Regions from separate parts of the Homo sapiens genome. Here all the other regions are linked to region 1. Evidence: fine-mapped expression QTL. A gene starts in region 1. Each other region holds a variant in brackets. All regions are shown on one strand. Distances are from middle to middle.

What was found. PIP is the estimated chance that this variant, and not a neighbour inherited with it, causes the effect.
Region 2: its variant is fine-mapped to the expression of PACS1 in whole blood (TOPMed, PIP 0.95).
Region 3: its variant is fine-mapped to the expression of PACS1 in whole blood (INTERVAL, PIP above 0.99).
Region 4: its variant is fine-mapped to the expression of PACS1 in lung (TOPMed, PIP 0.98).

The regions. Positions count from the first base shown.
Region 1 is chr11:66,066,825-66,074,926 of GRCh38, forward strand. PACS1 (phosphofurin acidic cluster sorting protein 1) reads left to right here and starts at 3,448. Exons shown (of 24, transcript NM_018026.4): 1 at 3,448-4,018. The coding sequence starts at 3,663. It overlaps SF3B2 (splicing factor 3b subunit 2), which reads left to right. Exons shown (of 22, transcript NM_006842.3): 20 at 1,122-1,221; 21 at 1,324-1,509; 22 at 1,850-2,484. The coding sequence ends at 1,921. RefSeq lists an enhancer at 1,301-1,460 and silencers at 1,551-1,600, 3,008-3,627, 3,638-3,687, 3,838-3,967, 3,978-4,127 and 1 more.
Region 2 is chr11:66,020,848-66,028,935 of GRCh38, forward strand. It overlaps CATSPER1 (cation channel sperm associated 1), which reads right to left and starts at 5,632. Exons shown (of 12, transcript NM_053054.4): 1 at 4,317-5,632; 2 at 2,002-2,214; 3 at 919-1,032; 4 at 649-796; 5 at 247-338; 6 at 1-107. The coding sequence starts at 5,532. RefSeq lists an enhancer at 1,803-2,304. The variant G/T (reference allele first, on the strand shown) is at 4,248.
Region 3 is chr11:66,219,643-66,227,744 of GRCh38, forward strand. It overlaps PACS1 (phosphofurin acidic cluster sorting protein 1), which reads left to right. Exons shown (of 24, transcript NM_018026.4): 8 at 104-163; 9 at 989-1,149; 10 at 1,512-1,605; 11 at 7,862-7,942. Among named protein-coding and RNA genes, the nearest start is that of KLC2, 34 kb to the right of the region's middle. RefSeq lists enhancers at 2,928-3,027, 3,088-3,327, 3,133-3,633, 3,634-4,134. The variant CAAAAAAAAAAAA/C (reference allele first, on the strand shown) is at 4,553.
Region 4 is chr11:66,145,646-66,153,747 of GRCh38, forward strand. All of the region lies in intron 1 of PACS1 (phosphofurin acidic cluster sorting protein 1), which reads left to right. LOC124902833 (small nucleolar RNA U13) reads left to right here and starts at 6,976; the gene lies at 6,976-7,080. The variant G/A (reference allele first, on the strand shown) is at 4,356.

The DNA of each region.
Region 1 (8,102 bases):
GTAGGTCTCGAGTTCTCTCTCTGCTCTTTTCTCCAGTACTCTATCCTGTGAACTCTAGCTGCCTTGATCTCCCTGGACTTTCAGTTTCATCCTCCCAACTCACGGAGTCCTCAGGGCTCTCCATGAGTCTCCCCTCTGTTCTGTGGCCTGCAAACTCTCAGGTGTGGTATGCTGGGGCAGTTGAAGGGCTCATCACATTTGTTTCCTGTCTCGCAGGAATCACTGTGCTTTGTTGCCCCATGTGTAGTGTCTTGAAAACCACTGTTTCATATATTTTGCCCATTTTTTTTGGTTGTTTCAGGCAGGAGGGTGTATCTGGTTCCTCTTGCTCCTTGTCAGGAAGCAGAAGTCTCAAGCTTTGCATATTCAAGGAAGAAAAATAAAGAAGGGTACTGTGGACAGAGTATAGTGAGGAGGGCTTGGGTAAGGGACCAGGCTATGAACCCTTTAGGTCATGGTAAGGAGTTTGGATTTTATTCAGATAATGATCAGAAGCCTCAGAGGGTTTTGAGCAAAGGTCTGACAGGACCCGACATCCGTTTTAAGGTATTTTCTCTGGCTCCTGTGTGGACAATAGATTGTCACCTCTTCCAGCGGGAGAGGTGGAGATGATGGGCATAGTCTGGGGTGATAGTGGTAGATTTGCTCTTGTTCCTAGTGTAATCCTTGAAATTAGTGGTGAAACTGGCTGTGGATGGCTCTTGCGTTGGAAGGCCTGGAAGTGTGAATTACATACATGAGAACTCCAGGCATGACATTCTTCGGGTGGGAACTGTTGTCGCCTGCTCTATCTTGCCAGCTTCTCTGTACCAAAGTTCTTTTGGAAACTTTGAGCCTCTCTGACCTTTTGACCCTTATGTGCATGTGGGAGTCCTGGTCTGTGATCCCTTGACTTGATTCAGGGGGCCCCTTAGCTCCATCTGTGTTCCCTGGAGTCAGCACTGTGCCACCCCCCCGCCCAATTCTTTTCTGTCATGGGCAGAACTGCAGAGGCTGCATCCTTGGGGAGCTCAGAAGCTCTCCAAGGCGCTGAGTGGAGGTGCCACCTGTATCTTTTGTTTCCGCTTCTGGAGACCCTTTTGTCCCTTGCTTTTTGGGCCTGATCCCATTGTCCTTCGCAGAAGTGAGACACCTCAGCTCTTCACTGTGTTGCCAGAGAAGAGAACAGCCACTGTTGGAGGGGCCATGATGGGATCAACCCACATTTATGACATGTCCACGGTGAGTACTTGGAGGATACTGCTTTTGGAGGCTGAGAAAGGCAGCAGAAGCTAGGGCTTCTCTGACTCTTTGGAGATGACCAGGCCCTGATCTCCTTTCCAGGTTATGAGCCGGAAGGGCCCGGCTCCTGAGCTGCAAGGTGTGGAAGTGGCGCTGGCGCCTGAAGAGTTGGAGCTGGATCCTATGGCCATGACCCAGAAGTATGAGGAGCATGTGCGGGAGCAGCAGGCTCAAGTAGAGAAGGAGGACTTCAGTGACATGGTGGCTGAGCACGCTGCCAAACAGAAGGTAGGCGCTTCCAGGGGCGCTGGGCTGGGTGAGAGCCAGGGACCCTGGCCTGCCGTTTTCAGTGGCATGGTGCCCTCTAGTGGTGAGAGTGAGGGTGGCCTCTGCTTGCTGCTCTGTGCTTCCTTAGATTTGGAAGTCTTAGAAATCCTCCAGTGGGCTGCCCTCTTTAAGGACGATGAGGGGGAGGAACTCAGCCAAGTCTGAGAGGGAGCTCGAAGAGAATTCAGATTCAGCGCCTTTCCCACAGACTTCTATGTCTATGTCAGGCTGCCCACCCTTGTTTTGGGGGTCCGGGGGTGGTTCAACCTGTCTTAACCTGTGTCTCTTTCTCCCTATACAGCAAAAAAAACGGAAAGCTCAGCCCCAGGACAGCCGTGGGGGCAGCAAGAAATATAAGGAGTTCAAGTTTTAGGTCCCCTCACACTAGCCCTTTTTTTGGCCCTACGTCTGGATGCCTGGGCTTCACACAAGAACCACCTCTCCCGCAGTTCCCAAGGACTTGTCATTTCATGTTCTTATTTTAGACCTGTTTTGTAAATAAAGCTGTTTCCCAAGGAAAGAGATGAATATTTAACACTCCTGAGCCTCCCTCATCTCCTTTTAGCCCCTTCTTGCAAAAGGACTAAAATAGTCTCTTTCTACAATCACTGGGCTGCCCCAGTAACCACGAACATAAACTGGGATTAGACGGCGCATTTGACTGGTGGTGACGCCAACCCCAGGCTGAAATCTGTGTTTCACCACTGCCCTGCTTTGTAGGAAGGCTTGGGGGAAGTACCTCTAGGTCTGGTTTGACCTTACTACTTTGTCCTTGGGGAGTAAAAATAGCCAGATTAGCGCCCTAGCGCGGCAGAGGAAGTAACAGTGGGCTTGGGAAGTAGGCCAGGGCAGGCCTTCCCAACTGACCTTGTGACCAGAAGTTCAAGTCCTTACCTGTGCGACAACATAGCTCAAAAGCTAAATTGTCTTGAGTCCATATGAACCCTTGGGTTCAAGCAACACTAGTCGCTGGGGTTTGGGATTTGTATGTGGGATGGGGGGACTTACTTTCTCCAGGTTGTAATCTGGTCCTGAGCAGCCTTTCTGACAGACTAGAGCAGGCTGGATCACTGGCTCCCATGGGCATTTGCCAGCCTGTGGGGAGGGTAGTCATGCGCTGCTGTTGTACTACTGTTGGTGTTTAAGTGCACCAGTGGAGGCGCTCACTTGCCGGAGGGTTCAAGATGGTCTCGGGGTTGTGGGGGGCATGATCCAGATAGGACGTGGCAGCTGAGCTAGGCCTTAGGAGGAATGGAATTTTAGAAATTTGGTAAGCAACAAAGCACTGGCACTCTAAAGAGGCATTTGGGGGGTAGGGAAAGAAGAGGAAGGTTGGCTCCAGATGGGCCCCGGGGTAGCTTGAGAATTCACTTATGCGAAGAACCTTCTGGACTCCAGGTCCCTGAGCCCCCGCTTGCCCTCGGGGCGGGAACTTCCCGGATCACAGGCACCCGCGGTGGCAGCGGGCCCCGGGTCTCCGCCGACCTCTCTGTTTGCCGGGGCCGCAGGGCAGGGCTAGGTCGGCAGGCGGAGAGCCGGCTTCCCCGGGCAGACCCCCACCGCTGGGGGCGGGTTCCGCATTGGCTCCGAAGACCCGAGGGGCCGAGGCGCGCTCCCGCGGCGGCCCCCTCCCTGCAGGGACCGAATCCCGGAAAAGCCGGGTTTCCGCTGGCGGGGCCGCGGCCGGCCGTGGGCGGGGAGGGGAGGAGCGGGGGCAGACTGGCAGCGGATTTGAGGGCAGGACCCGTGGGCGCGCGCTGGCCACAGACCACCCCTTCTACTCCGCGGGAGCGAGGGGCGCGCGTGGCTGCACGCAGGGCGCGAGCGCGCCCGGCCCGGCCCCTCCGCGCTGGGTGGGGCCGCGCGGGCCGGGCTCCCCGCCCCCTCCCGGACACGCCCACCCGTGTCGGCCTCGCGAGCCGCAACAGGCAGCGGCGGTCGAGCGCGAGGCCCGCGCGCCCAGAGGCCCCGCGCGTGCGTGCAGCTCGCTGGCTGCTCGCGCTCGGGCAGGCGGGCTGAGGAGGCTGCCGCGCCCCCGCCGCCGCCGCCGCGGGGGAAGCCTGGGAGCCAGATCGGCGTCGCCTCGGCCTCCGTAACCCCCGCCTAGCCGGGCCATGGCGGAACGCGGAGGGGCGGGCGGTGGTCCCGGAGGCGCCGGGGGCGGCAGCGGCCAGCGGGGATCCGGGGTCGCCCAGTCCCCTCAGCAGCCGCCGCCGCAGCAGCAGCAGCAGCAGCCGCCGCAGCAGCCGACGCCCCCCAAGCTGGCCCAGGCCACCTCGTCGTCCTCGTCCACCTCGGCGGCGGCTGCCTCCTCCTCGTCCTCGTCTACCTCCACCTCCATGGCCGTGGCGGTGGCCTCGGGCTCCGCGCCTCCCGGTGGCCCGGGGCCAGGCCGCACCCCCGCCCCGGTGCAGATGAACCTGTACGCCACCTGGGAGGTGGACCGGAGCTCGTCCAGCTGCGTGCCTAGGTGAGCGCGGGAGGGTGCGGCGGGGCGCCGGGGGAGCGGGGTGGCCGCCGGGGCCCAGCCCTCCCCGCCCCAGCGCCCATGGGGTCCCCGCCCTCCATCTCCCCGACTGTCCCGCGGCCCGGCCTGGCTCCAGCCAGGCCTCCCGGGACTCCTGCCACGGGGACCCGCCCTCTCCTGGCAGCCCCACCTTCTGCCTGGGGCCGGGACCACCCTTCTGTCCTCCCCGAGGGACCTTCTGGCCTCGGCCCCGGGCTTTCTCCGATTGGGCTGACCGAATCCGGCCTTCCTGGCAGTCAGTTTCCCTGAGTAAGTCACTCTCCTGCCTCGCCGGCGCCGGGAGCTGTACATACATGGATGTGGTATAGATCTCTTGATATTATTATTTCCCAATAGACTCAGCATGTGCCAAACTCGATTGTCACCTCTTGCAGGTAAAGCTCATATAATCACCCTAGGGGCTTCTCATTAGCCTTCGGCACACATGTTCATTTGAACTTCATATTACACACGTTCTGTCCCAAGCGCTAGGCTCTTAGTTTTGGGGCCCTATTTAATGTGTCCTCAAGTGTATTTTTACCTCCCCTCCCCCACTAAAACTGGTCCCAGAATCTCCCAGCTCTGCAGGGCTGTATGAAATTACTGCCTTGTTCCTAAATTCAATCCATTGCTCTCTGTCTGTTGGAACCATCTGGGGACTTTCCTTCCATTGGCAAAATAGGCCTGAGTTTGGGAATATTTTCTGTTTTTGTATTGGCAAGGCAGTCTGTCTCCAACTCTGGGGACAGGGTGCTGTGTCTTACAGTTTGCCACTTGAATAAGACGGTGTGTGGAGCTGGTTTCACCCAGAAAGCCCAGAGAAGTGCCTGGAGGTGTTCTTTTTTGTCACCTTGTAGCTGAGTTGATTCTGTTGCCTTGAAGTCTTGGGCTGTCTCCTCACTGTTGGTTAGGCAGACGGATGTGTAAGTCAGAGTTAGAGAGGATTGCTGGGCTCCCCCCTCGACTGTCTTCCTTTCCCCACCTTTATTCTGGATAATATTGTTTTATATATATATCCCAGATAGGAATGATGAGAGTACATCTTTCTGTTTCGCTCAGCTTAAGGAACAGAGCATTATCGCTTCTGTTGAAGCTCTCAGGGTGCCCCTTCCTGACTGTCTCCCCTCTTCCTTCTACAAAGGTAAACACTATTTTGAATTGTGTTTATCATTTCCCTTGTTAGAAAAAAATTAGTTTTACTACATAATGCATCTCTATATATTTTATAGTTCTGAATGTTCTTGAAGTTTGTGTACATGGTGTCATCCTGTATGTGTTCTGTGACTTGATTGGTTTTTTTATTTTTTTTTAAATCAGCATTAGGTTTGTGAGAATCATCCATGTGGTATGGTAGCCATAGTTTAAATATTTTCATGATGGGTAGTATTCTGTTGTGTGAATGAATATACCGTAATTCTCTTGAATATGTAGGTTGTTTCCTGTTTAACACCCACAGTAATGCACACATTTCCCCCCAGGACTCCTAGTGCTCTTGTGCAGAAGTTTCTTTAGGTTGTATTCATATGGAGGGGTGGGATTGCCGCTCGCAGGGTATAGATCTGGGACTTCACTAGGCAAAAGTAGATTGTTTCCACAGGCTGCTTCCACTCTGTGTTTCCACATCACTTAACAGATTTACACATTGTTTTTTTTTTCTCTGTCCTTTCTCTAGGGAAATCAGGAGCCACATTAATTTAGTTTGCTGTGGCCAGATCCATAGCACAACACCAAGCTCAAGCGAGAGTTGAGTATGTGATGGTGTTCCTCTCTTGATCCTAAGCAGGCCTCTCTCTTTCTATACAGGCCCATCTATCGCTGAAGTATCCTAACCCACCTCTTTCACACATAGAAACACTGTGTTCCTTCCTACGTGGGTCCAGTCTTTCCCATTTCTCCTTCACTTTCATGCCTGTGTTTGGTGACGTTTGGGCAGCTGCCTTCTCCATCTCGTTAGGTTGAAAAGGCGCGAGCCTACTGGCAAGGAGCTGCAGCAGAGGGGCGTGAATGAAATCATTGACTGCTGTTGATGTTTGGTCTGCCCCTAGGTCTTTTGGTCACTGCAAAGTCCACGTAATAAATTATTAGCCTAAGAAACAGCCAGGCATCCTGATCAAATGTATAATTATTATGCTAACTTGCTGTGAGAGGCTTAGGCGGACTTATTTTTACATTCCGGGAGTGTGCAGTTACGTCACGTTTACTGACCAGTCCTTGAGCTTGTCCACTGTCCTGCTCCGACATTGTTTTTCATCCATCACCCTTGTACCTCCTCACTCCTTGTGGAACACATGTGCTCTTTGAGCATTTTGCAGGCCAGAATAACACTCTGTGGGGAGAAAATGGCCTGCCATTGGTCTTTCCAATTATTAGAGTCATCTGGTTAATTTGAGGTCTCCTGGGTGTCCTTGTTCATGTTGTTTAGAATATATAGGCAACATGCAGCACTCTGTGGAGGGATTAACATTCTTGTCTCATGTAACTCAAACGGGACACAAATATATGAGATACATGCCCCTTAGAAATGTAAACATGATTGTGGATCTAAGGTTAGGTGTGCATAAGAATGTCATGGGATTTGGTCTCTTAGGGCAGAGAAGAGGGGCTCGAACAGTACAGTGTTAGGAAGGTCCTGCTGCTTTTCTTGATGCCTGTCAAAATATAATTTTCTTTTGAAAAAAATACCGTTTCCTGTATTAGATATTTAAATAAAGAGCAGTGTAGTTGTTCTTCAGGTAGGTGTCTGCTCTTATTTAACATCTGTTAAATTCCCCCAGAATACATAGTACTTTTGAAAAACTTTATATAGGTGAATAGCTTACTCACAGCTGGTTTTAAAAGAATGAAATTGTTCTGTTGATCACATTTTTCACCAGCATTTTTTGTTTTTTTTCTTTAGATGGAGTCTTGCTCTGTCATCCAGGCTACAGTGTAGTGGCACAGTCATAGCTCACTGCAGCCTCCAACTCCTGGGCTCAGCAATCCTCCAGCCTCAGCCTCCCAAGTAGCTGGGACTATAGGCATGTGACATCACACCTGGCTTTTTTTTTTTTTTTTTTTTTTTTTTTAAAAACAGGGTCTCACTATGTTGCCCAGGCTGGTCTTGAACTCCTTGCTTCAAACTGTCCTCCTACCTCGGACTCCCAAAGTGCTGAGATTACAGGTGTGAGCCACTGTGCCCAGCCTTTTACCAGCATTTTTTTTAAAGACAAAATGATTAATATATGTCCATGATTAGAAATTTGAGCAGTATGGAAAGATGGAAAGCACAAAGGAAAAAGCCCCCAGTCCATCCCTCTTCTCACTTCCCAGAGGTAATCACTGTGAAATACAGTTGGCTTTTAAGATTCTGTTACAAAAAGGTAGTTTTGCTATAGTTCCTTTATCTTTTATGAAATTCAAGCTTTAGAAGTTAGCATTGTTTTCCCTTCATGCTAAGTAGTACTTCCTCTACTATGGTCCAGTATGGCATGGACCGTGGTGCAGGGTTATGGGGACCAGGTGGCATGCTGCTTGATGTTAAAGGAAGGGTGTTAGAGCCTCATTGTTGATCCCTTCCCTTCTGCCTTTGTATGGTGAGGTTTCCCTGATGTTCTTTTCTTTTTGTGTTGCTGTAAGTAGGAGAGGCAGAAAAATTACTAAATTTTACAAGCATTCAAAATTTCCTCAGTGGCATAAAAGTGATTATTAAGAGATGAAATGTGCTCTGCTGTATCATTCGCAAACCATATCCAAAGCCCATTTGCATACCCTTATGTGTATGTGAACTTAGGGTAGGAGTTGGCAGTTATCAGTCACTTTTCTCCTTAGGTCACATTTTTTTTAAGTGGGTGCTGAGGTCAAGCCTTAATGGACAAAAGCGTTGGAATCACAGAAGGTGGCCATAGCTGAGTTGGCATGACTGGTCTGCAGCAGAAGTGTTACTTTCATGAAAACGCTTGGGGGCATTTGCCCCTTTAACCACAGAAGCACTATACGAGCCAAGATATACTACTCTATCTTCTTACTATATACTAGGACAAACTCTTCCATGCATTAGTTTAATTTTATT
Region 2 (8,088 bases), 46 kb before region 1:
ATCCAGCGTGAGCAAGGTGAAGAGGGTGAAGATGGTGGTGAAGATGTTCTGGAAGCGCTTGGGGTCAGATTTGCGGAACAGTGCCCGGAGGACCGCGGAGAAGAGGACTGGCTGTTCAGGGCCAAACTCAGCTCTCCAGTGCTATCCCCACCCCAGCGCCCCTCGTCCTGCCCCATCCCTGCTCCCCGCACCCCTTTCACCGCAGCCCCTCAGGCCCCCACCCCAGCCCCTGCAGCACCAGGATACAGAGGCAGGTAAACATGAGGATGAGGATGGCTGCGATGGACGGCAAGGACTGGCCCAGGGTCCCTGTCACTTCCTGGACGCTGGTCAGGAAGCTGTGGGCAGAAGGAGTGGGGACTGAGTCATCGGTGAGGGGCGGGGGTGTGTGTCTCTGCCCAGCAGCCACAGCTGGCGCTGAAGGCAGGAGGCTCCTGACTTGTTGGTGACTTGGGTGAGTCCTGGCCCCTCTCTGGAAAAATGAAGGGGCTGATTCCAGTGCATGACAGAAGGCAGAAGCAGGCTGGGGTCAGCAGCCTCCTGCGCCCCCATCCCTTGAGCAGGTCACAGTGGATTTCTTTGGGGCCCTGGTCTGTGTCCCCTCTTCCTTTGGAGTCCCCACCCCAGGTGGGAGCCGTGGCCACTGACCTGAGCCTCCGCAGGACCCGGATTGCCCTCAGGGCCCGCAGGCTCTTGAAGACCTTGAGGATCCGGAAGAGGCTTTGGTGGTAGATGGCGAAGGAGTGGGTCTGCATCAGCAAGAAGTCCAGCACGGCCATGGCCATAATGAAGAAGTCTGAGGGCACGGGGTGCCTGAGCCTGGCGGGCTCCCAACGCCAGCGCCCCCTTCCCCATCCTTCTCTCGTCCCGAGCCTCCCCCAGACTAAACACACGCAGCCTGGCCCCGGCCGCACCCACCCAAATTGTTCCAGAAGTCAAAGAAGTACGAGAGGCCCAGGGCGATGATCTTGAGCAGGGCTTCCACCACGTAGATGCAGAAGAATATGGAGTCCAAGGCCATGAAGTACCACTCTGCAGGAACACAGGGGTGCACTCAGAGCTGTCCCCAGCACCCAGTGCCCTCTCTCTCCTCAGCATTAGCCTCACACAAGCCCAGATTCCCAGGCTCTCCCCGGCTCTGCGTAAGCAGCTGCGCGACTTCACTACTGCTGTGTCTCAGTTTTCTTGTCTTTAAAATGGGGATAATTGTGTCCAGGAGCAGTGGCTCACACCTGTAATCCCAGCACATTGGGAGGTTGAGGCGGGCGCATCACTGGAGGTCAGGAGTTCGAGACCAGCCTGGCCAACATGGTGAAACCCTGTTTCTACCAAAAATACAAAAATTAGCTGGGCATGGTGGTGGGCACCTGTAGTCCCAGCTACTTGGGAGGCTGAGGCAGGAGAATCACTTGAACCCGGGAGGCGGAGGTTGCAGTGAGATCGCGCCACTGCACTCCAGCCTGGGTGACAGAGCCAGACTCCGTCTAAAATAAAATAAAATAAAATGGGGATAATTGAAGTCCACTTGATAGAGTTGTGAGCGTTAAATGCATGAACACAAGCGAAGTGCTTAGAATGGAGCCTGAGACAGCGAGCCGGGCAGCTCCTGTCCTTCACCCTGCTCCACGGCGTTGGAGGGCCCAGCCTTCCCCGACCTTACATCCTCGCCCCTCCAGGGCCTTCTCGGGCTCCCGGCCCTTCCGCGAAGCTCGGGCTCCAGGCGCCCGCCCGCCCTCAGCCGCACATTTGGAGCAGATGCGCTCCCTAGTGGCTGCGGCGCGAACAGCACCGCCTCCCGCCTAGCGGGTCCTTCTGTCTCGGGCCGGCCTCAGCGGGGTCTTTCTGAGACGCTCTCTAATACTGGGTAAGGCCATCTACTTCCCAGGGGTGAGGATCAAGTGAGCTGAGTCCTATAAACCGCCCGGCACTGGATCAGGCCCACGGAGGTCCTGGAAGAGCATCGGTGGCTTCTCCATGGGAACAGGACTCCCTGGCTCTTACCGCCCCGGATCTCGACTTCAGCGAAGGTCTGGGCCACCAGCATGACGGTGTTGAGGCAGACAACGAAGAAGATGAAAGTTTCAAAGGCCAAGGATTGGGTCAGGTTCCGGATCATTTCCCGGAAGCCCTGAATGAGGAAGGTTAGCTTTTCCCACAGCCACTGGAAGAGATTGGTAGAGTGTCCCTTCTTGCGGGTCCGCTGGAGCCGGCCGGCTGAAAGGAACAGGGCCAGAAAGTCAAGTGTGTGCAAGAGGGGACACGAGGTCCCAGGCACCCCCCAGCCTGGCTCAGCGTCCATGGTCACTCCTGCCTGCTTGCTGGCCCTCTGCCTCCCGGGTTCAAGCAACTCTTGTGCCTCAGCCTCCCAAGTAGCTGGGACTGCAGGTGCCTGCCACCACGCCCGGCTAATTTTTGTATTTTTGGTAGAAACAGGGTTTCAACATGTTGGCCAGGCTGGTCTCGAACTCCTGGCCTCCAGGGCTTCCACCACGTAGATGCAGAAGAATATGGAGTCCAAGGCCATGAAGTACCACTCTGCAGGGACACAGGGGTGCGCTCAGGGCTGTCCCCAGCACCCAGTGCCCTCTCTCTCCTCAGCATGAGCCTCACACAAGCCCGGATTCCCAGGCTCTCTCCAGCTCTGGGTAAGCAGCTGCGCGACTTCACTACTGCTCTATGTCTCAGTTTTGTTGTCTTTAAAATGGGCATAATTGTGGCCAGAAGCAATGGCTCACACCTGTAATCCCAGCACTTTGGGAGGTTGAGGCAGGCGGATCACTGGAGGCCAGGAGTTTGAGACCAGCCTGGCCAGCAAATCCCCAACAGGCTGGTCCTGTGCCTTCTGTGGCAGGGGCCAGCCTGTTGGGGATTTGGAGTTGGCTTCTGGGGATCCTGAGGGCTCCCACTCCTATGCCTCCATGCCTTTCTTTGCTCACGTGGCAACTTACATATGGAAAACCCACCCTCCTCATCATCCCATCCTCTTGGTAAACTTATCCTCTCCCTTTCAGGTCCTGATGAAATGTTCCCTCCTCTGGGCTGCCTTTCCTGTCCCCATTTAATAACACACTTGCCCCTCTCTGCTTGTTCCTGAGACTGTTGTCATATTTTGTTTGTTGTTGTTGTTGTTTTCTGAGATGGAGTCTCGCTCTGTTGCCCAGGCTGGAGTGCAGTATCGTGATCTCGGCTCACTACAACCTCCGCCTCCCAGCTTCAAGAGATTCTCCTGCCTCACCCTCCTGTGTAGCCAGGATTACAGGCACGCACCACCACACCCGGCTAATTTTTGTATTTTTTTGGTAGAGACAGGGTTTTGCCATATTGGCCAGGCTGGTCTCCAACTCCTGACCTCAAGCAATCTACCTACCTTGGACTCCCAAAATGTTAGGATTACAGATGTGAGCCATCGCACCCAGCCTATTTGTTTTTTTTTTTTTTTTTTTTTTTTCCTACGGAGTCTTGCACTGTCACCCCGGCCGGAGTGCAGTGGCACGATCTCGGCTCACTGCAACCTCTGCCTCCTGGGTTCAAGCGATTCTCCTGCCTCAGCCTCCCAAGTAGCTGGGATTACAGGGGTGCACCACCACGCCCAGCTAATTTTTGTATTTTTTTGGTAAAGACGGGATCTCGCCATGTTGGCCAGGCTGGTCTTGAACTCCTGACCTCAAGCGATCCACCCACCTCGGCCTCCCAAAGTGCTGAGATTACAGGCGTGAGTCACCGCGCCTGGCCTGTTGTCATGTTTATTGAACTACTAGGAAGAAAGTTTGGTGGCGTATGAGCTAAAGGCCATGGTCCCTCCTTGCCCTCCAATAAGGCCCTCATTCAGGCATTAGTTCCTAATCTCTGTTCTCAAGCAGCTCACAGGTGAGTGGGAGAAATCTGGACAGATAGAATCCACCATGGTAAATGTTCTGAGGGCAGGCCCCGAGCACAGGATGATCTGTGGTCAGCTAAGTGACCACTCCTAGTTTTGGGCCCCTCGAGGGCAGCGACTGTGTTGAATTTTTCCCCATGCTGCCATGGCCCAGGCAGGCCACACACCCACATTGGATGAGTATCAATGTTTGACTGGTAGACATATGAATAAATAAGGCAGTGACTGAATGAACAAACACCTCATGGCCTAAAGAGGTACATAATTCAAGGAATAAAAGATGGGACCATGAACAGTCAGGAGAGTGAATAGCCAGTGGGGGACCTGTGCAGGAGGGTCGGGCCTTACGATCTGCGGAAGGACAGTGCGG[G/T]GCCGAGATCAGGTCTGGATCCTGCGCCAGGCAGCAGGAGTTGGCATGGGGGGCCCAGCAAAGACTCACTTTTGCGTTTCTGAAATTGCCCTTCTTCTTTGCCCCAGTCTTCTGAATGTTTGGTGGAGATATCCTGGGTATGGACTTTTTTGGACATCTGGGTGACACGTGAGCGGATTGTGCTGGAGGACCGAGTCATGCTGTGAGCCGAGCCCCGTGGGTGTGCTACGTGATAGGGGAAGACTCCTGTACGAGAAGCAGCAGGGCCGGGGGCATCGTGAATCAGGCTCCGGGATGTGTGTGGGATAGAGAGTTGGGAAGTGCTCTGGACGTAGTCGCCATGGAGGTAACTGGAATGATACGCGCCGTGGTGGTCTTGGTGCTGATGGTAGTCTCGGTGCCGGTGGGTCTGGTGGTAGTGGTGCTGTGTGTGGTGGGGATGGTCGCCATGGTGGTACTCACTGGGGTGGTGATCACCTTGGTGGTACTCGCTGTGATAGTCAGATATCCCACGCTGGTAGGACCCCACAGAGGAATGAGGGGAAATGGTCTCTCCGTGATGAGGAGACTTTCCATGCTGGTGGGCTTCATGATGACGGGACCTGCCATGGTGGTGGACTTGGTGATGGTGGGGCCAGCCACGGTGGGGGACTTGGTGATGCTGGGACTCATCGTGTTGGAGCCCGCTAAGGTGGGAAGCCTCGCTGTGGTGGAAGGACTCACTGTAGGGATTGGGTCCATGGGGGAGGTAGGACCCACCATGGTGGGAAGCCTCACCGTGGTGGGGCACGCCAGAGGAATAGTGGGATAAATTCTCACCGAGATATTGGGGTCTGCCATGGTGAGACCCCCTATGGTAATGGGAGTCACTCTGCTGATGGAACCCACCGTATTGGGACCCATCATGATGCCTCCTGCCATCACGTTGGAGCTCATCATGGTAGTCCTCACCGTAGGAACGGTGGGAGGGGACGGCGCCTTGAGAGGGAGCCAGACCAAAGCCTGTGGGGCCATGGGCTCTGCCGTGATTCCGTGCCTCGCTGTGGTGGTGAGATTGGTGGACATGGGAGGACAAGGCTTGGTCGTGGAAGTCTTGGAACTCCGGAGGGTGGTGAGATTCACCACGTTGGTGGGGCACGCCGTGATGGTGCAACTCGTAATGGTGGAGAGCTCTGCTGTGGCCTGGCCTGTGGTGTGGGGGTGATGAGTGAGAGCGAAAGAACCTATCTGCGTTATTGGTGTCTGCCTCATTCTGAGCCTTTTCAGGCACTGAGTTTTGATCCATGACTGTGCTGGGAACTCTGGAGCCAAAAGAGCTCAAGACCTGGGCCCAACAGGCCCCGCCTGGATTTCCCTTCTTTCCTGAGCCAAGCTCAATGCAGACTGTGGCACTGGGCTTCCAGAAAGGCCTGACTATTCTCGTGGAACTCTCCCCTCTATGATGTCACCAGCAGGCCAGGGCCTCATTCCCAAATGCCTCTTCCTGGGCTATAGTTCGGAATCAAGAATTATTGTGTCAAACTCCTTCATTGTAAATGAGGAAACCGAGGTCAAGAAAAGGGAAGGACTAGACCAAGGTGACCTCACAGGTCACTGGCAAAGCTGGACAAAGAAGTCCATGGGGGCGCCATGGCTTCATCAGCTACTTTAGCCCTGTTGTTGGAAAGAAAATGGTCCAAGTGGTCCAGTCTTCAGTCCCATCTAGAGATCAGCTGGCTCTGGGGTGAAGACTGCCTGACTCCCTCATAAGTAGGTGTGTGACCTTGGGCTTGTTGCTGAACTTTCCCGTGCCTCAGTTTCTTCCTCTGTAAAATGGGAATAATAATACCTAGCCCACAGGATCAAAAAAGTTAAGATATGTAAGCCTTATATTAACAGCATAATACATGGTTTTTGTTGTTGTTGTTGTTGTTTGTTTCTTTGTTTGTTTTTGAGATGGAGTCTCGCTCTGTCGCCCAGGCTGGAGTGCAGTGGCACGATCTTGACTCACTGCAACCTCCACCTCCCAGCTTCATGCCATTTTCCTGCCTCAGCCTCCCAAGTAGCTGGGACTACAGGCGCCCACCACCACGCCCGGCTAACTTTTTCTATTTTTAGTAGAGACGGGGTTTCACCATGTTAGCCAGAATGGTCTTGATCTCCTGACCTCGTGATCCGCCTGCCTTGCCCTTCCAAAGTGTTGGGATTACAGGTGTGAGCCACTGCGCCCAGCCCATGTTTTTTTGTTTTTGTTTTTGTTTTTTGAGACAGTCTCACTGTCACCCAGGCTGGAGTGCAGCGGCATGATCTCCACTCATGGCAATCTCTGCCTCCCAGGTTCAAGTGAGCCTCCTGCCTTAGCCCCCTGAGTAGCTGGGATTACAGCCACCCACCACCATACCCCACCCCGGCTAATTTTTTTTTTTTTTTTTTTGAGACAGAGTCTTACTCTGTCACTAGGCTGGAGTGCCGGGGTGCAATCTTGGCTCACTGCAATCTCTGCCTCCTGGGTTCAGGCAATTCTCCTGCCTCAGCTTTCCTAGTAGCTGCGACTACAGGTGCACACCACACCCAGCTAATTTTTGTATTTTTAGTAGAGACGGGGTTTCACCATGTTGACGAGGCTGCTCTTGAACTCCTGACCTCAAATGATCCACCCACCTCGCACTCCCTAAGTGCTGGGATTTCAGGTGTGAGCCACCATGCCTGGCCAATACATGTTAATTGGCATTATTATTCTCTTCTTGATCTTGGAACCCCCCTTTAGGGTTATTACCAAAATTAAACTATCAGCCATCATTTATTGAGGATTGCTTCATACACATTTTGTTTTCTTTCTTTCTTTTTTTTTTTTTGAGACACAGTCTTGCTCTGTCACCTAGGGTGGAGTGCAGTGGCATGGTCTCAGCTCACAGCAACCTCCACCTCCTGAATTCAAGCAATTCTCCTGCCTCAGTCTCCCAAGTAGCTGAAAGTACAGGCGTGCACCACTACGCCCAGCTAACTTCTTTTGTATTTTAGTAGAGATGGGGTTTCACCCTGTTGGTCAGGCTGGTCTCGAACTCCTGATCTCAAACGATCTGCCCGCCTCGACAACCCAAAGTGCTGGGATTACAGGCATGCGCCACCGTGCCCGGCCCATACACATTAAATTTAATCCTCACAATAGCCCCACATGGTAGATATTGTTTATCCCCATTTGACAGACAAAGGTGCTATGGCTCAGAGAATATAAATGAGTTGCTTGATGAATGAAAACTTACCGTCAGTGCTATCTCACTCCAAGTCTGTATCTGTAACCTTCATGCTGTCCTGTCTTCCTCCTGGAATCCACTGCAGAGCTTGCCCTGTATGCTGAATTCATATGTGCACAGCGCAGCTCTTCTGGAAGCTTATGGGTCTCAGCTTCTTGAGTGCTTGGTCAGAGCCATGTCCATAGTGGCTGCTGGGTTCCCAGTGATGAAAGAGACACGGCTCCTGTTTTAAGGAGCTCACTATCTGTTGCCAGCAGCAGACAAAGAAACAATTTGTGTGGGCTGGGCATGGTGGCTCACACCTGTAATCCCAGCACTTTGGGAGGCCAAGGCGGGTGGATCGCCTGAGCTCAGGAGTTTGAGACCAGCCTGGGCAACATGGTGAAACCCTGTCTCTACTAAAATACAAAAAATTAGCTGGATGTGGTGGTGTGCGCCTGTAGTCCCAGCTGCTTGGGAACTTGGGAGGCTGAGGCATGAGAATTGCTTGAGCCCAGGAGGCGGAGGTTGCAGTGAGCTGAGATCACACCATTCCAACAAGAGCGAAACTCCATCTCAAAAAAAAAAAAGAAAGAAAGAAAGAAAAAGAGAAGACTCTACCCTGAGAG
Region 3 (8,102 bases), 150 kb after region 1:
TTCCCACAGCTCGTCATGAAAGTGGGCTCTGGTGGGTGTTTATTGACTTGAATTGACCCCAAGTGGACGTTGCTGAGAACTGTCATGCGATTTGTCCCTACAGCAACCTAACATCAAACAGAAGTTTGTGGCCCTCCTGAAGCGGTTTAAAGTTTCAGATGAGGTATGGCCTCTTACTCCCAAGGTTAATGGTGAGTAGAATTCCCCGGGTTTCACCCAGCATCCCTGGAGTACACTCTGTATTGCCACTGAGAGTCAGGATTCTAGGATTAATATTCCTGCTCCCCGTGGCATACCTGGTAGAGCCCTAAGGGAGAGGGTGGCTAAGAAGGACTTAAGCAAGCAGAGGAGAGAGAGGCTATGCACACAACGCAGGGCAGCACAGCTACGCCCGACCCTTGGTGATGCGCAAGCCTCTGGCATGCGATACAGGGACAGACCCAGCGGATGCTGCTGCGGTTGTCACTTAATTTCCCCTCTTATCCCACGGGAACATCAGTGAGCAGCAGCTTGTGAGGTGGAAATGTCCTTGTTGGTCAGCCCTGGAATAACCAGGAATGGGGCTGCTGAGAGAGAAGCAGTCTTTTCCCTGGGCTCCGGGAGGGGCCCGTTTCCACAGGCCTCTCAGTGGGCTAACAGAGGGATAAAGATGAAAATTGTTGAGAGCGATTGCTTCGCCTTCCTGTGAGCTGTAAGGAGGGTAGGAAGAACCCACATGGGCGATGGGCCTCGGGATTCCTCAGCTGTCCCTCCTGGCACAGCTTCACAGTGTGGAGCGGTGGCAGGAACTGGGGGGAAGGTGGCCTCACCATGTCCCCGCCCTCAGGCTGGATCATGGAAATGACGTGAAGGTTACTCCAGCCAGTGTGAAGCTCTGGCATGTCCCTTAAGCAGGACTATAAGGGCAGCCCAGGAGAAAGGAGCTGCTCATCAACCAAAATTGTTAATAGGGATGACCCTAAATTCAGAGACTCCTTTTTCCCTGCAGGTGGGCTTTGGGCTGGAGCATGTGTCCCGCGAGCAGATCCGGGAAGTGGAAGAGGACTTGGATGAATTGTATGACAGTCTGGAGATGTACAACCCCAGCGACAGTGGCCCTGAGATGGAGGAGACAGAAAGCATCCTCAGCACGCCAAAGCCCAAGCTCAAGTGAGCCCCCCTCTCTGTAGCTGGCCTCCAGACTCTCCTTCCTGGCCATAGCAGTCTCCTGACCCCTCCCTCGCTGTCCCCTCTATTACCAGAGAATCTTGGTCCTTCATCCTTTCTGAACCTCTGGCTGTCTTGGAGAAGGTCACTGTTTTGCCTCTCACTGACAGAAGTCCTATAGGACTCTCAGGAAGTACCCCCTCTCCTGACCCGCCCCTCCTCTTCACCCTGCACTTCCCTGCTCACCGGGCGTTCTGGACACCTGTAGCTTGTTGACCCACCCTGAATGCCAGCTCCATTCAACTCTCCCAGCATGCTGTTCTGAGCCCTGGCAGCACTGACCCTGGCTGTGCTCTTCACCACAGGCCTTTCTTTGAGGGGATGTCGCAGTCCAGCTCCCAGACGGAGATTGGCAGCCTCAACAGCAAAGGCAGCCTCGGAAAAGACACCACCAGCCCTGTGAGCGCAACCGCGACTGCGGGGCGGGGTGGGACCGTGGCATGTCAGGGCTCGACGCTCTGGCCCTCTGCATCTCTGATCAGGGCTCATGTTGTGACCTTAGAAAAGTGGCCCCATTGGCTGGGCATGGTGGATCACAACTGTAATCCTGGCACTTTGGGAGGTGGAGTCGGGCAGATCATGAGGTCAAGAGATTGAGAGCATTCTGGCCAACATGGTGACACCCCATCTCTACTAAAAATACAAAAATTACCTGGGCGTGATGGTGTGCACCTGTAGTCCCAGCTACTCAGGAGGATGAGGCAGGAGAATCACTTGAAGCCGGGAGGCGGAGGTTGCAGTGAGCCAAGATTGAGCCACTGCACTCCAGCCTGGCGACAGAGCGAGATTCCCTCAAAAAAAAAAAAAAAAGAAAAGAAAAAAGAAAATGGCCTCATCTTGTTTCAGCCTCAGTTTTCCTCCCCTCAGTCTGGCTGGGAGCTTAGCTCTTTGGGGTCATTGCTGTGTCAGGCTGGGTTGTTCCTTTTGGTCTGTTTCTGCCATGGCCCAGCGCCTTCCCTCTCAGAATACATACAATCTCCCCCTCTGCTGGGCGTGGTGACTCATGTCTATAATCCCAGCTCTTTGGGAGGCCAGGGCGGGTGGATCACTTGAGCCTAGGAGTTCGAAACCAGCCTGAGCAACATGGTGAAAGCCCATCTCTACGAAAAATGCAAAAGTTAGCCAGGCATGGTGGTGCACGTCTGTAGACCCAGCTACTTGGGAGGCTGAGGCAGGAGGATCCCTTGAGCCCAGGAGGCAGAAGCTGCAGTGAGCTGTGATCGCACCACTGCTCTCCAGCCTAGGTGACAGAACAAGACCTTATCTCAACAAACAAAAACCTCTCCCTTCGTGTCTGTTCTGTGGTAGCTGAGAGTGTGGCATGGAGTGGGCGTTTGGCCAGTAGTGAGTGGCCCTGCACCAGACTGGGGAAGGAGCAGGTATGGAGAGGAGGGGAGCCACTGAGACGTGCTCAGGAGGCCCTAGTAGGCTTTATTGGGCCAAGAATCCATAGAGGGGAGCAGTGCCCCGAGAAAATTTATAATTTAGTCAAGAGGTTTCCATTTTTTCTGGTGAGCAAGGGGAAAAGGGGGCATGTACTGTAGCAGCCGGAGCCACGACCTGGGCCTTGCTCCGCCCCTCCTAGAAAGGCCCTGCTCCCTCAGCAGATCACAGGCAGGGGTGGGTGTGAGCCTGAAGTGACCTCAGGCCCTAGGAAGCTGCTCTTCCTTCGTTTACAATGGAAGGCAAGTGAGTGTTGTCGCGATGTGAGTGCCCAGCTTAGGATTTGCCCTCCAAAGCCCAGTGTCTTTTCTGTAGATCAAAGAAACAAATCCTTTAAGTCCTCCTGTTCACCTGCTTTACTGGCAGATGAAGCCTACTCATGGTTCACCAGGGGGAATACCAAACTCGCCCTGCAGATCGGTAGTAATTGTGCGGAGATGATAGGAAACAGGAGAGGCCTCTACCGCTGAAAAGCACGGGTCTGAAAGGGCAGGTGCCTGTCCTGGAAACCACCTTCTCTTGGGGCATCCCCTGGCTGCCCTTCTGCCTGTTGCCACCAGGTGGGGCTCTCTCCCAGCTCACCGTTCTTCCTGCTTAGGACAGCGCCCCACGTGACGTTAGTGAGGCAATGCATGGGAAACTGCAGCCCAAACAGACTCCTCCCTGGGAGAAACCCCAGCCCTGCCCCTGCAGACCCTGCACCCTAGACGCCGTTCCAGGCCGGGTTCATGGGGATCCAAGAACTGAGGAGACCTCGATTTACAAAAAAAAAAAAAAAAAAAAAAAACTCTTTCTAAATTTATTTTTTATTTTTATTGGAGTCGGAGTTTTGCTCTTATCGCCCAGGCAGGAGTGCAATGGAGCGATCTCGGCTCACTGCAACTTTCACCTCCCGGGTGCCAGCGATTCTCCTGCCTCAGCCTCCCGAGTAGCTGGGACTGCAGGCACGTGCCACCCACACCCGGCTAATTTTTGTATTTTTAGTAGAGATGGGGTTTCTCCATGTTGGCCAGGCTGGTCTCAAACTCCTGACCTCAGGTGATCCGCCCGCCTCAGCTTCCCAAAGTGCTGGGATTAGAGGCTTGAGCCGCTGTGCCCGGCCTATTTTTTTTTTTTTGAGATAGGGTCTCGCTGTACTCCCCAGGCTGGAGTGCAGTGTGTACCCAGCCACCTCACTTTCTTTGGTATTAGTGTTTAGGATGTGGCTTGGAGATGCATTTCCTCACATGGAACTGCTGAATGGCCCTGCTGAATTGACAGCATCCACATGGGCAAACCCTACTGGGCAAACCCTACCCCTGGCCATGAGAGCTAAATTCCCTCTTAACTATATGGGATGACTCTAGAAAGATACCTGGGAGCTGGCTGAGGGAGGACTCTTTCTTAGTGTTCTAGGAATGTAGAGCAAGTGCCCTAATATAACAAAATGTAACTAAATCACTAACTGAGACAGTGCCCCAAAAGCAGTAAGCAGAACACCTAACACTGTGGATGTTCAATAAATGTTAGTTACCTGACTTATAAAACTTACAGAAAAAATTACTTAGACACTCTGAGCCTCGGTGCCTCATCTGTAGGGTTGTGGTGTCGGTATAGGAGCCCATTTGGCTCAAAAGCCAGTTGAGGGCGGACACGGTGGCTCAAACCTGTAATCCCAGCACTTTGGGAGGCCGAGGTGGGTGGACCACTTGAGGTCAGGAGTTCGAGACCAGCCTGGCCAACATGGCAAAACCCTGTTTCTACTAAAAATACAAAATTAGCCAGGCATGGTGATGCACACCTGTAATCCCAGCTACTCGCGTGGCTGAGGCAGAGAATTGCTTGAACCTGGGAAGCAGAGGTTGCATTGAGCCAAGATCCCGCCACTGCACTCCAGCCTGGGTAACAGAGCAAGACTCCATCT[CAAAAAAAAAAAA/C]AAAAAAAAAGCCAGGTGAGTGTCAGCCTTTATAATATGATGGCCTAAGGGCCTCTGTCAGGGCAAAAACACATTTGGGACAGGGTAGAGCTTCTGAGTTTGAGTCTTGACTCCACCACTCCACTGACTGTGTGATCTTGGGCATGTTACCACGCCTTTGCTTCCTCATCTACAAGGTACGTGTTAAAGCTCGTGCCTCCCAAGGTAGTGAGGAGATGGAACAGGATCATGCACATCAGACTGCTGCGTGGGGTGTGCCTGATTGACTTACTGCACACAGAGCACTGCTCATTGCTCACCGACTACTATTGCTTTTATTATTATAATTCCTTAGTGCCATTTCAGTTGTGGACTCCTAAAATTGATAGAATCTAGATGTCTTTTTAGTGAGTCCTTCAAATTCTGGTTCCCTTGGCCACGTTTCAGACTCACTTTGCTGGTTCTGTGCTGATATTTCTATTTTGAAGAGCCCCATATGTCTGGATGTGGGTGTGAAACTTTGGAATCCTTTGGTATGAAAGGCGCTTTGGGAACAGCAGAACCAGACTGCGCTCTTAAATGGAGAACTTCTGAATGGATTAGGAAAAACCACGAGATTGTGCACCTGTAGGCAGGTGTGCACGCACCACCTCAACTTGTGTCCTCTCTTCCCTGGTTTCCTAGCACTGTTATTTATTTATTTTTCTTAATCTTGCTTTTTGTTCCCCACATTTTAGAGGATTCAGTTTATCGCTAGAACCAGAAAGAATTTCTCCTGATACGAATTATTCCAGTTGTTGAATTTTCCCAAGGCTTGAGCACACAATGGCAACATAATTTGGTTCTCCAAGCTGATAACAATGAGCCCTGACAGTGCGTCAGGGCAGCCACAGATGCAGACTTCCAGCCAGGACTGCCTGCTGCTAAGTCGCTATTTCCACAGCACTATAAATAATGGCATTAGAGCCTAGTCCTTCATGAAATGATAGCCTACACATTACCCACTCTTGCCCCCTTCTCTCTGACACGGGCCTACACTCTTACCCTTCAGCAGCTGACATTGTCCATGAGCACAGTGGTGCAGACTTCTGGGACCTCTAGTGATACCTCATCCATATCCCATGCCAAACACTTGGTCAGACACAGCTGGAGTCCTGCTGGTGTTCCAACATCTTTTGGGGGAAAAAGCCCTTTAGTGTTTATAGAAGCAGGAACAGAAATGTGATGAAATTGGGAATTTGTCCCCAGGAGGATTGTCTGGGACATCTGGAAGAGCCAGTAAATAGCCAGCAGGTGTCCTCTAAGCCCAATCCAAGTTAAAGATATTATCAGGAGATGGATATGCTAATTACCTTGATTTAATCATTTCACAGTGTATCCATACATCAAAACATGTTGTATACTGTAAATATATACAATTTTTATTTGTCAATTATAGCTTAATAAAGCTGGGAGGAATAAAGATCTTAATAAATGTTGCAGCTTTGACATGGAAGCAATGCTGTAGCTGTCATAGGGCTTAACAACAAGGCGTGCTACTTCAAAACCTCCCAGCAGACCTGTGTTATCACCCAGTTCATTCTCTTTAAAACGCGTTTAATTAATTTGTCATATTGAGATCGAAAATGGAGTGAAATTATCTCTAGTCTCAGGTCTAACCAGAGCTTTTCCATGATTCTAGATTCTATTAATGTTGGCCGAGGCTGGGCGTGGTGGCTCACACCTGTAATCCCAGCACTTTGGGAGGCTGAGGCAGGTGGATCACTTGAGGTCAGGAGTTCAAGACCAGCCTGGTCAATCAACATGGTAAAAGCTGTCTCTACCAAAAATACAAAAATTAGGCAGGCATGGTGGCAGACGCTTGTAATCCTAGCTAATCAGGAAGCTGAGGCAGGAAAATCACTTGAACCCGGGAGGCAGAGGTTGCAGTGAGCCAAGATTGCACCACTACACCCCAGCCTGGGCAATAGAGTGAGATTCAGTCTCAAAAAAACAACAGCAACAACAACATTGGCTGATCATATAGAGAAGGTGTAAATGAGCTAGCTCTGCAATCTGGAAGCAACCTGTTCTGTGGCTGTGAGCCATTACACAAGCCAAACCATCTGAAGATCTGGGGTCCCAGAGTCTGGCTCAGGCATGCTGAGTTAGTCCTGCAAATGGCCTGGAGCAGGGGTTCTCAACTGGGGATGATTTTGCCTCCCAGACATATGGCAATGATTGGAGACATTTTTGTTTGTCACAAATGAGGGAGTGGAGAGTTGCCACTACCAGCACCTAGTGAGTAGAGGCCAGGGATGCTGCCAGACATCCCACAGTACACAGGACAGGCCCCCACAATAAGAATGAGCCAGCCCCAAATGTCAATCGTGCCAAGGTGGAGGAACCCTGGTTTAGAGTGTGACATAGGGAGCCTGCTGTGGTGATCCTTGTTCCATAGTTTACTAGGTGACCCTGAACTTACTAGCCTGATGCTTCTCAGTATTATATGATTGACTCAGAGAAAGGACTTTGAGTCATTGGGAGGAAGTGGGATATCATTTATATTTTTCTGCCTCCTATGGTTCCCTACAAGAAACAAAAAGATTCACTAAAGCCAGTACCTTCCCTGCATCTAAGACCTACAACCCACACGTCACTGCTGGTGACTTTGAGTTGCTGTCTGCACAGCAAGAAGCAATATTAACAAATACGAAAATCTGGTTATGTGTCTATATTTGCAAAGGAAATTTTTAATATTTATGAGAAATGCTAATAAGAGTTGGGGACAAATGGAGAATTAATTTACACCTAAATGGCTTAACATTGGGTGTCTTTCTGCTTAGTATATCCTGTTAGAGGGTTTTCTGGATGTTCCCACCAAGCAAAAAGCATTTGGCTACCATGGATGTCTTTAGTCTCAAAATCAAAGACCTGAACCTAGCATACTCCTTTCTCTGGCAAGCAAAGGAGGCCTCCCCTCTATGTCCTTCCTGGGCAAGTGTATTCACTGGATCCAGGGTCAAAGACTTCATGGATGCAATAGCAAAGCCATCTAAATTTTGAGCTTCTCTTGCCTAGTGACACCTCGTGGAGTCAGAATTTCTGGGTTCTGAATCTCCGTGTTATTGACTTGATGACAAAGATAACTGATCCCTCCAAAACCTGGTTTTCACAGAAATGTACCCGCCTCCCCGGCCCACATAAGAAAAAAGCCCTGAAGATTTTATGAGGTTTGAGATTAAATGAAAGTATTTTAAGCTTCATAGGGACCTAGTAAAACAAATTAAAGTGGTAGTTATTTGGATCAGTGATAACTAATTCTTATAATTTTTGCAGATGGAATTGGCTGCTCTAGAAAAAATTAAATCTACTTGGATTAAAAACCAAGATGACAGCTTGACTGAAACAGACACTCTGGTATGTATGGGTCAGTTTCCTGTTTCAGCTGTTTCAAATAGTGTTTGTCCCTTTAGAAATAACGGCAGAAGGACCCTCAGGACCACCATAGAAATTTCACCTAAATCTGCAGGCTTATGAATGTCCTGCACTCTCTTTCTCCTGAAATCCTTACCCGTGG
Region 4 (8,102 bases), 79 kb after region 1:
GGCTGGGAATCTGCATGAACGTATGAAGGAAATGTGACAGGGCTGATCCGAAAGGAAAAGTGGGATAGACCTGAAAACTGCTTGAACTTTTGCTCCCTAACCCTGCACAGACCCATGGGCAGAGGTTGGAAGCCTAGTAGGCTCAAGAGATGCAAACACAACCTGTAACCAATCATTGCCTGATCACTAAGCTGTGTGTCAGCAAGTCAGGCTTAAAAATAAAAACAAGAATTTGAAAAGAAAAACTGGAAAAAAGAAGAAAAGAAACTGAGTAGAGACATCAAATAGCCACACATCACAGGGGAGACAGATTTTGTAGATTTAGTCAGGGCAAATTACTAAAGAAATAACACACGTGAAAAATTACAGTTGAGAGTTGCTACAATATATTATCTAAAACATCTAGTTTTTTAAAATTATGATTATGTCTGTAATTTATTATGGTTATGTCTGTAAGGAATGGCTACAGAAAACAAACAGAAAAACAAACACTAATGGGACAAAAAAAACAGGAAAGGGTGGTTCATATTCAGGGAAGATAATCAGTCAATAGAAACTGTCTCTGAGAGAGCCTAGATGTTAGGTTTAGTAAACAAAGACTTCAACACAGCTATTATACATGTGTTCAGGAAATACAGGAAACTATGCATGTCATGTTTAAATATTTAAAGAAATGTATGATGACAGTGACTCAATAAATCTCAATAAAACAGAAACTGTAAAAAAGAACCAAATGCAAATTCTGGAGATGAAAAATACAGTAACTAAAATTAAAAATTCACTACAGGAATTCAACAGCAGATTTGAGACACAGAAGAAAGAATCAGTGAACTTAAAGATAGATCAATAGAAACTGCCAATCTGAAGAACCTGAGAGAAAAAAATGAACAGAGCCTCAGAGATCTGTGGGACAACATCAGGCATACCAACACACATGTCACAGACTCCTACAAGGAAAGGAGAAGAAAGGGCAGAAAAAAAATGTATGAAGTAACAGCCAGAAACTTCCTACATTTGATGAAAATCATGAATCTATGAAAACTTCAAATCGGATAAATATTAAGGGATCCACACCTAGGCATATCCTGGTCAAATAATTGACAGGCAAAGACAAAAAGAGGCTGGGTGTAGTGGCTCACGCCTGTAACCCCAGCACCCCAGCACTTTGGGAGGCTGAGGTGGGCAGATCACTTGAGGTCAGGAGTTCGAGACCAGCCTGGCCAACATGGTGAAACCCCCGTCTCTACTAAAAAATACAAAAATTAGCTAGGCATGATGGCACATGCCTGTAATCCCAGCTACTCAGGAGGCTGAGGCAGGAGAATCGCTTGAACCTGGAAAGTGGAGCTTGCAGTGAGCCGACATCATGCCTGCCACTGCACTCCAGCTTGGGCGACCAAGTAAGACACTGTCTAAAAACAGACAAAGACAAAAAGAATAAGAATGTCTTGAAAGCAGCAAGAAAAAGATAACTCCTCAAGTTTTTTATTGTAACAGTATGAATGTTTGCTGACTTCTCAGCAGAAACAGTGTAGGGTAGAAGGCAATGGAATGACATATTCAAAGTACTGAAAGAAAAAACGAAACAAAACAAAATTTTTATATCTAGCAAAAGTATTCTTCAAAAATGAAGGCAAAATAAAGACATTCCTAGATAAACAAAGACTAGGAATTGCTTGCTACGAGATCTACCTGAAAGAAGTTTTTTTGACTGAGAGGAAAATTCTACCAATGGACAGTAATTTAGATCCACAAGACTAAAGGAAGAACACCAAAATTGCCAAATATTTGGGTAAATGTAAGATAATATATAAAAATAGCTGAGGCTTAAAGTAGTAAAGAACATTCTCCTGGTAAGAGGAAAATGATAACAATGGAAACTTGAGTCAATTTAAAGGAATAAAGAATGCTAAAAATAGTAAGTATGTAGGTAAACATAAGAAATTTTCTAATGTTGTAATTTTTCTAAATGGTAATTGACAGTAAAAAGCAAAAATAATAACAATGTATTATGGAGTTAAAACATGTAGAATAGAGAGTAAAGGGGTGATTCCTGGAGGCTGGGAAGGTTAGGGGGTAGTGGGAGGGAAGTGGGTTAGTTAATTGGTACAAAAAGAAAGAATGAATAAGAGCTAGTATTTGCTAGCACAACAGTGTGACTGTAATCAGAAATAATTGTGATATAAAAATAACTAATTATTGTCTGTGACACAAATGATAAATGCTTAAGATGATGGATACCCCATTTACCCTGATGTGATTATTAGGTATTGCATGCCTATATCAAAGCATCTCAAATAACCTATAAATATATACACCTTCTATATACCCACAAAAATTAAAAATAAATTTTTAAAATTTAGAAATGAAATATACGGCCATAATAACAAAAGACATAAGGAAAAAAAAATACCTGAGACTCTCTTGTAGTTTGTTGAGTGTAATTGGCATAATCCTTTTGAAAGCTAGTTGGGCAGTAGCCATTAAAAATGTACTTTTTAAAAATTAATTATTATTATTATTTTTTGAGACAGAGTCTCACTCTATTGCCCAGGCTAGAGTGCAGTGGTGTGATCACAGCTTACTGCAGCCTTGACCTCCTGGGCTCAAGTGATCCTCTCAGCTTAGCTTCCCAGGTAGCTGGGACTACAGGCACACACCAGCATGCCTGGCTAATTTTTGTATTTTTTATAGAGATGGGTGTCTCGTGAGGCTGTACTCACACTCCAGGCCTCAAATGATCCTCTTGCCTCGGCCTCCCAGAGTGCTGGCATTACAGGTGTGAGCACCATGCCTGGCCTGCCATTAAAAATTTAAATGTTTAGTCCTTTTGACTTAGCACTTTCAGTTTTAAGAACACATATCATAGAAACACTACAATAACTTTGTAATAACTAAGAACTATAAAAAAGTCAAATGCCCATCAGAAAGGGACTGATTAAGTAAGTAGTATATTTATTTTGACTAACTATTATAACCATTAAAAGGAATGAAGTCAGGCCGGGTGCGGTGGCTCACGCCTGTAATCTCAGCACTTTGGGAGGCCAAGGAGGGCGGATCACTTGAGGTCAGGAGTTCAAGACCAGCCTGGCCAACATGGTGAAACCCCTTCTCTACTAAAAATACAAAAATTAGCTGGGCATGTTGGCGTGCATCTGTTATCCCAGCTACTTGGGAGGCTGAGGTGTGAGAATTGCTTGAACCAGGGAGGTGGAGGTTGCAGTGAGCCGAGATTGCACCACTGCACTTCAGCCCAGGTGACAGAGTGAGGCTCCATCTCAAAACAAAACAAAACAAAAAAGAATGAAGTCACTATATATGTTTTAACATGGAAAGGTGTCCACTTAACAGCTGCTAAATGTGATGCATTTGGTCGAAAAGAGATTGAGCAGCACAGAAGTATATGCTCAAAGGTATGTGTGAGCATGTGCACATGCACACGCACTTTTTTTTTTTTTTTTTTTTTTGAGATAGAGTCTCCCTCTGTCACCCATTCTGGAGTGTAATGGTGTGATCTTGGCTCATTGCAACCTCTGCCTCCTGGATTCAAGCAAGTCTGCCTCAGCCTCCCGAGTAGCTGGGATTACAGGCGTGCGCCACCACACATGACTAATTTTTGTATTTTTAGTAGAGACAGGTTTTCACCACGTTGGTCAGGCTGGTCTCGAACCCCTGACCTCAGGTGATGCGCCTGCCTCGGCCTCCCAAAGTGCTGGGATTACAGGTGTGAGCCACCATCCCCAGCCAACACGCACTTTTTTTTCTTCAGCCTTTTAATAGTGATCTTCTCTGGCGATTTATAGGATTGTTCCACTTTATTATATATTTCCAAAATAAGAGGTTTTTTTCCTACTGTGTGTTTCTACTTTTTCTACTTTTCAAACTATTACTTTAAAAACAAATATTTTATAAACATACACATTTTAAAAAGTAGCTCATAGCATAACATTAACTTTGTATTTGAAATTGTGAGATGAAATCAAGTACCCGGTCTATAAACAGCACTTTCTACATCCATTCCACATCTTGTGTTCGTGTGTGTGTGTGTGTGTGTGTGTGTGTTTTACATGTCTGTTCAGTACATTATAAGATCTTTGGGGGGCAAAACTGATCTTTTTTTTGAGACGGAGTTTCGCTCTTGTTGCCCAGACTGGAGTGCAGTGGCATGATCTCGGCTCACTGCAACCTCTGCCTCCCAGGTTCAAGCAATTCTCCTGCCTCAGCCTCCTGAGTAGCTGGGATTACAGGCATGCACCACCACACCTGGCTAATTTTGTATTTTTAGTAGAGATGGGGTTTCTCCATGTTAGTCAGGCTGGTCTCGAACTTGCCACCTCAGGCGATCCACCCGTCTC[G/A]GCCTCCCAAAGTGCTGGGATTACAGGCTTGAGCCACCACGCTCGGCCAAAACTGATCTTATTCATATTTGTTCAATTTCTCCCCCACATCCCCTCTCTCTATTCCTATCATATAGTGCTTTGCACATAACAGACCATCTGTGAATATTTATACTTTATTAAAGACATATAAAATAGTAATTATTCTCTACAGCAATTGGAATCCAATACAGTAATCTATATACAGTTATTTGATCCACTGACATACGTTCTTTCTCTTTCTCCCAAAAATAACCATTGAGACTAACAAAACCAAAACAAAACCGAAACAAAGAGCTCTAGCTTTTCCCATCTTCTCCAGTTACTAAATGTAGAACAGACTGGGTTTTGCTGACTTCTAGGCAGGAAACAGATTCTATTTCTAGGAACAGAATTCCTATATCTAACTGAGCTATTCTTTTTCTTTTATGTTGTTTCCTTTTCACTAAAATAGAAAAAAAAAAGAAACATTTTAAGCCTTTCTACCTTTGCTATATGACTTTATCACATGCAACATTTGGAATATTTGATCTAATAAATTTCTAAAGACAATTAGGACTTTGCCACTGAAGTGTTATTGTTCATTACTTGAAAACGTGTTACTTTTAAATGTTTTGTTTATAGCACTATGCCTTTAAAAGTAAGGTGTTATATTTAAAAATCCAAAAAGTAAATTACTTTCTGTTGGATTAGAGGAAATTTCCATTAAGGGAGATTGAAGTGGTTGCATAAACCCTCCTACAGATAACAATTGAAAGATCTGGGTAAAATATAAGAAACAACTAAAAGCATCCAAAAGCTGTCCCTAGAACCTGAGGAGAATTGACTCCTGAAACACTATAATAGAAGGAGCAAGAATTGCAAGTTTGTGACTTTTTTGCCAGAGGTTATGCATCAGTACCCATGGTGGTTTCAGTAGAAAGAAATGATAGTGGAAAGCTGCAGCCTTACAGATGAGAGGTGCCAAAGAAGAGAAGTCAGGGATGGAAGACAAGCTGGAAAGTTCAGGGGGGAATCCTGGAAACAAGAGAGGACTACAGAAAGGGGGAGGCCCCACATCTGAGTGAAAACTGCCCAAATTCCTGGTTGACTATTAAACTCTAAATGTATAGTGAAATCCCAGGGAGCCCAGCAAGACAAAAACAAAAATAAAAACCAGCCAACCAATGAAACAAAGCAAGCAGGCAGAGGCTAGAGAGGAATCTACCCTTAAAAGACAGACCTATACTAGATGAGATCTGTGAGGTTCATGCTTTTTAAAACAGTATATCCCTAAACTGTGAGCAGCGAAGCAGTGGAAAGCTGAAGCCTTACTGGCTTGGGGTTCAGAGGAAAGACCCTAATATTGCCCAAGCAGCTGAAAACTTAGGAGGAAATCACAAGAACACAAAAGTCACAGAGTGTGAGCCCCTAAATCTGAGTATGATCAGCCTAAATCCCTGGCTGTCTGCCAGATTACACAGAAGCATGGGAGACCCCAGGGAGCTAGGCTAGACGTTGTAAGAGCTGAGCAGAGATAGCAGCTGCTTCATACGACAGGAGAGACAGTTCGCAGTTTGAATCCAGGCAAGTTAACTGCCTACTAGAATATAAAAAGAGAAAGTTCTCAGAAGAACACAGTAGAATCCAGAGTTGCTATAACATCTTATCTACAATGCCAAGTTTTCAATCTACAATTACTAGACATGTAAATAAAATGGAAAGTCTAACTCATACTCAGGAAGAAAAGCAGTCAGTAGAGACTGACTCTGAGCATCTAAGTGGGTACAGTGTTGGATTTTGCAGGCAGACTGCAAAGCCACTGTGCTATGATCAAAGAATTAAAGGAAAAATAAGTGAACAGATAGAGAAATTGTAACAAAGAAATGGAAAGTGAAAAAATGGAAGTTGTAGAGCTCAAATAAGTAATAGCTGAAATAAAAACTCACTGGAGGCCGGGTGCAGTGGCTTACACCTATAATCCCACAACTTTGGGAGGTCAAGGCAGCAGGATCACTTGAGCTCAGGAGTTTGAGACCAGCCCGGGCAACATAGTGAGACCCCACCTCTACAAAGCAATTTTAAAATGAGCCAGGCATGATGGTATGTGCCTGTAGTGCCAGCTACTTGGGAGGCTGAGGTGGGAGGATCGTTTGAGCCCAAGAGATCGAGGCTGCAGTGAGCTGTGATCGTGCCACTGCACTCCAGCCTGGCTGACAACATGTCTCAAAAGAAAAAAAAAGTTCACTAGATGTGCTCAACAGCAGTTTTGAAATGACAGAGAAAAGAATCTGTGCCGTTGAAGATAGATCAATAGAAATTATCCCATCCAATGAAGAGAGGAGCAAAGATTGAAGAAAAGTGAGTAGAGCCTCAGAGACTTGTAGGACGATATCAGGTAGCCTAACATAAGTGTACTTGGAGTCTTAGAAAGGGAAGAGAAAAATAGGCAAAAAACAATATTTGAAGAAATAATATCCCCAAACTTCTTAAATATGGTAGAAAACACTATAGATTCAAGAAGTTCAGTGGAGTCTGAGCACAAAGGAAAAGCACTCATAGGCATATCATAGTCAAATTGCTGAAACCAAAGATAAAAAGAAAATCTTAAAAGCAGATAGAGATCCTTTTGCAGCTCATGAGTGTGACGATTGGGTGTTCATGCATGTGTGTGAGGTGTGCCACCCTCTGAACCTTGTTACAACATCAGCACATTACGTCTCTGAACTTGCATGGGGAGGGGAAGCAGGTAGAGAAAAGTGACACATTACATAAAAGGGATCAGTGTTACAAATGTGACTGACTTTTCATCAGAAATGAAGGAGGCCAGAAGACACTGGAACAGTATAGTCAAATACTGAGAGAAAAACCCTGTCAACCAAGAATCCAGTATCCAGAGAAACACATTTTCAAAAATGAGGGCTAAAGACATTTTCAGAAAAACAAAAATTGAGAGAATTCATCACCAGCAGACTTCCACTAAAAGAAGTTTTCAGAATGAAGGGAAATGATACCAGGTGGTAACTCATCTACAGGAAGAAATAAAGGGCATTGGAAATAGTAAATATGTAGGTAAATATAAAAGACTATGATTTTTTTCCTTCTCTAATTTCTTTAAGATACATATGTGTTTTTTTTTGAGATGGGGGTCTCACTATGTTGCCCAGGCTTGAGTGTGTTGGCTATTCACAAGGACAATTATGGTGCACTATAGCCTTGAACTCCTGGGCTCAAGCTATCATCCTGCTTCAGCCTCCTGAGTAGCAGAGACTACAGGCATGTGCCACTGTGCCTGCTGGTGACATAAGAAACAAGATTTTAAAGATTTTATAACACTCTAGTGCTGGGTTTATAATGTACATATAGGTTGGTCACAGTGGCTCACACCTGTAATCTCAGCCCTTTGGGAGGCCAAGGTGGGAGGATTGCTTGAGCCCAGAAGTTTGAGGCCAGCTTGGGCAACATGGTGAGACCTTTTCTCTACCTAAAAAATAAAAAACCTGGCCAGGCGCGGTGGCTCACGCCTGTAATCCCAGCACTTTGGGAGGCTCAGGTGGGCGGATCACGAAATTGGGAGATCGAGACCATCCTGGCTAACACGGTGAAACCCCGTCTCTACCAAAAATACAAAAAAATTGCCCGGCATGGTGGTGGGCACCTGTAGTCCCAGCTACTCTGGGGGCTGAGGCAGGAGAATGGCGTGAACCCGGGAGACGGAGCTTGCAGTGAGCCGAGATGGTGCCACTGCAC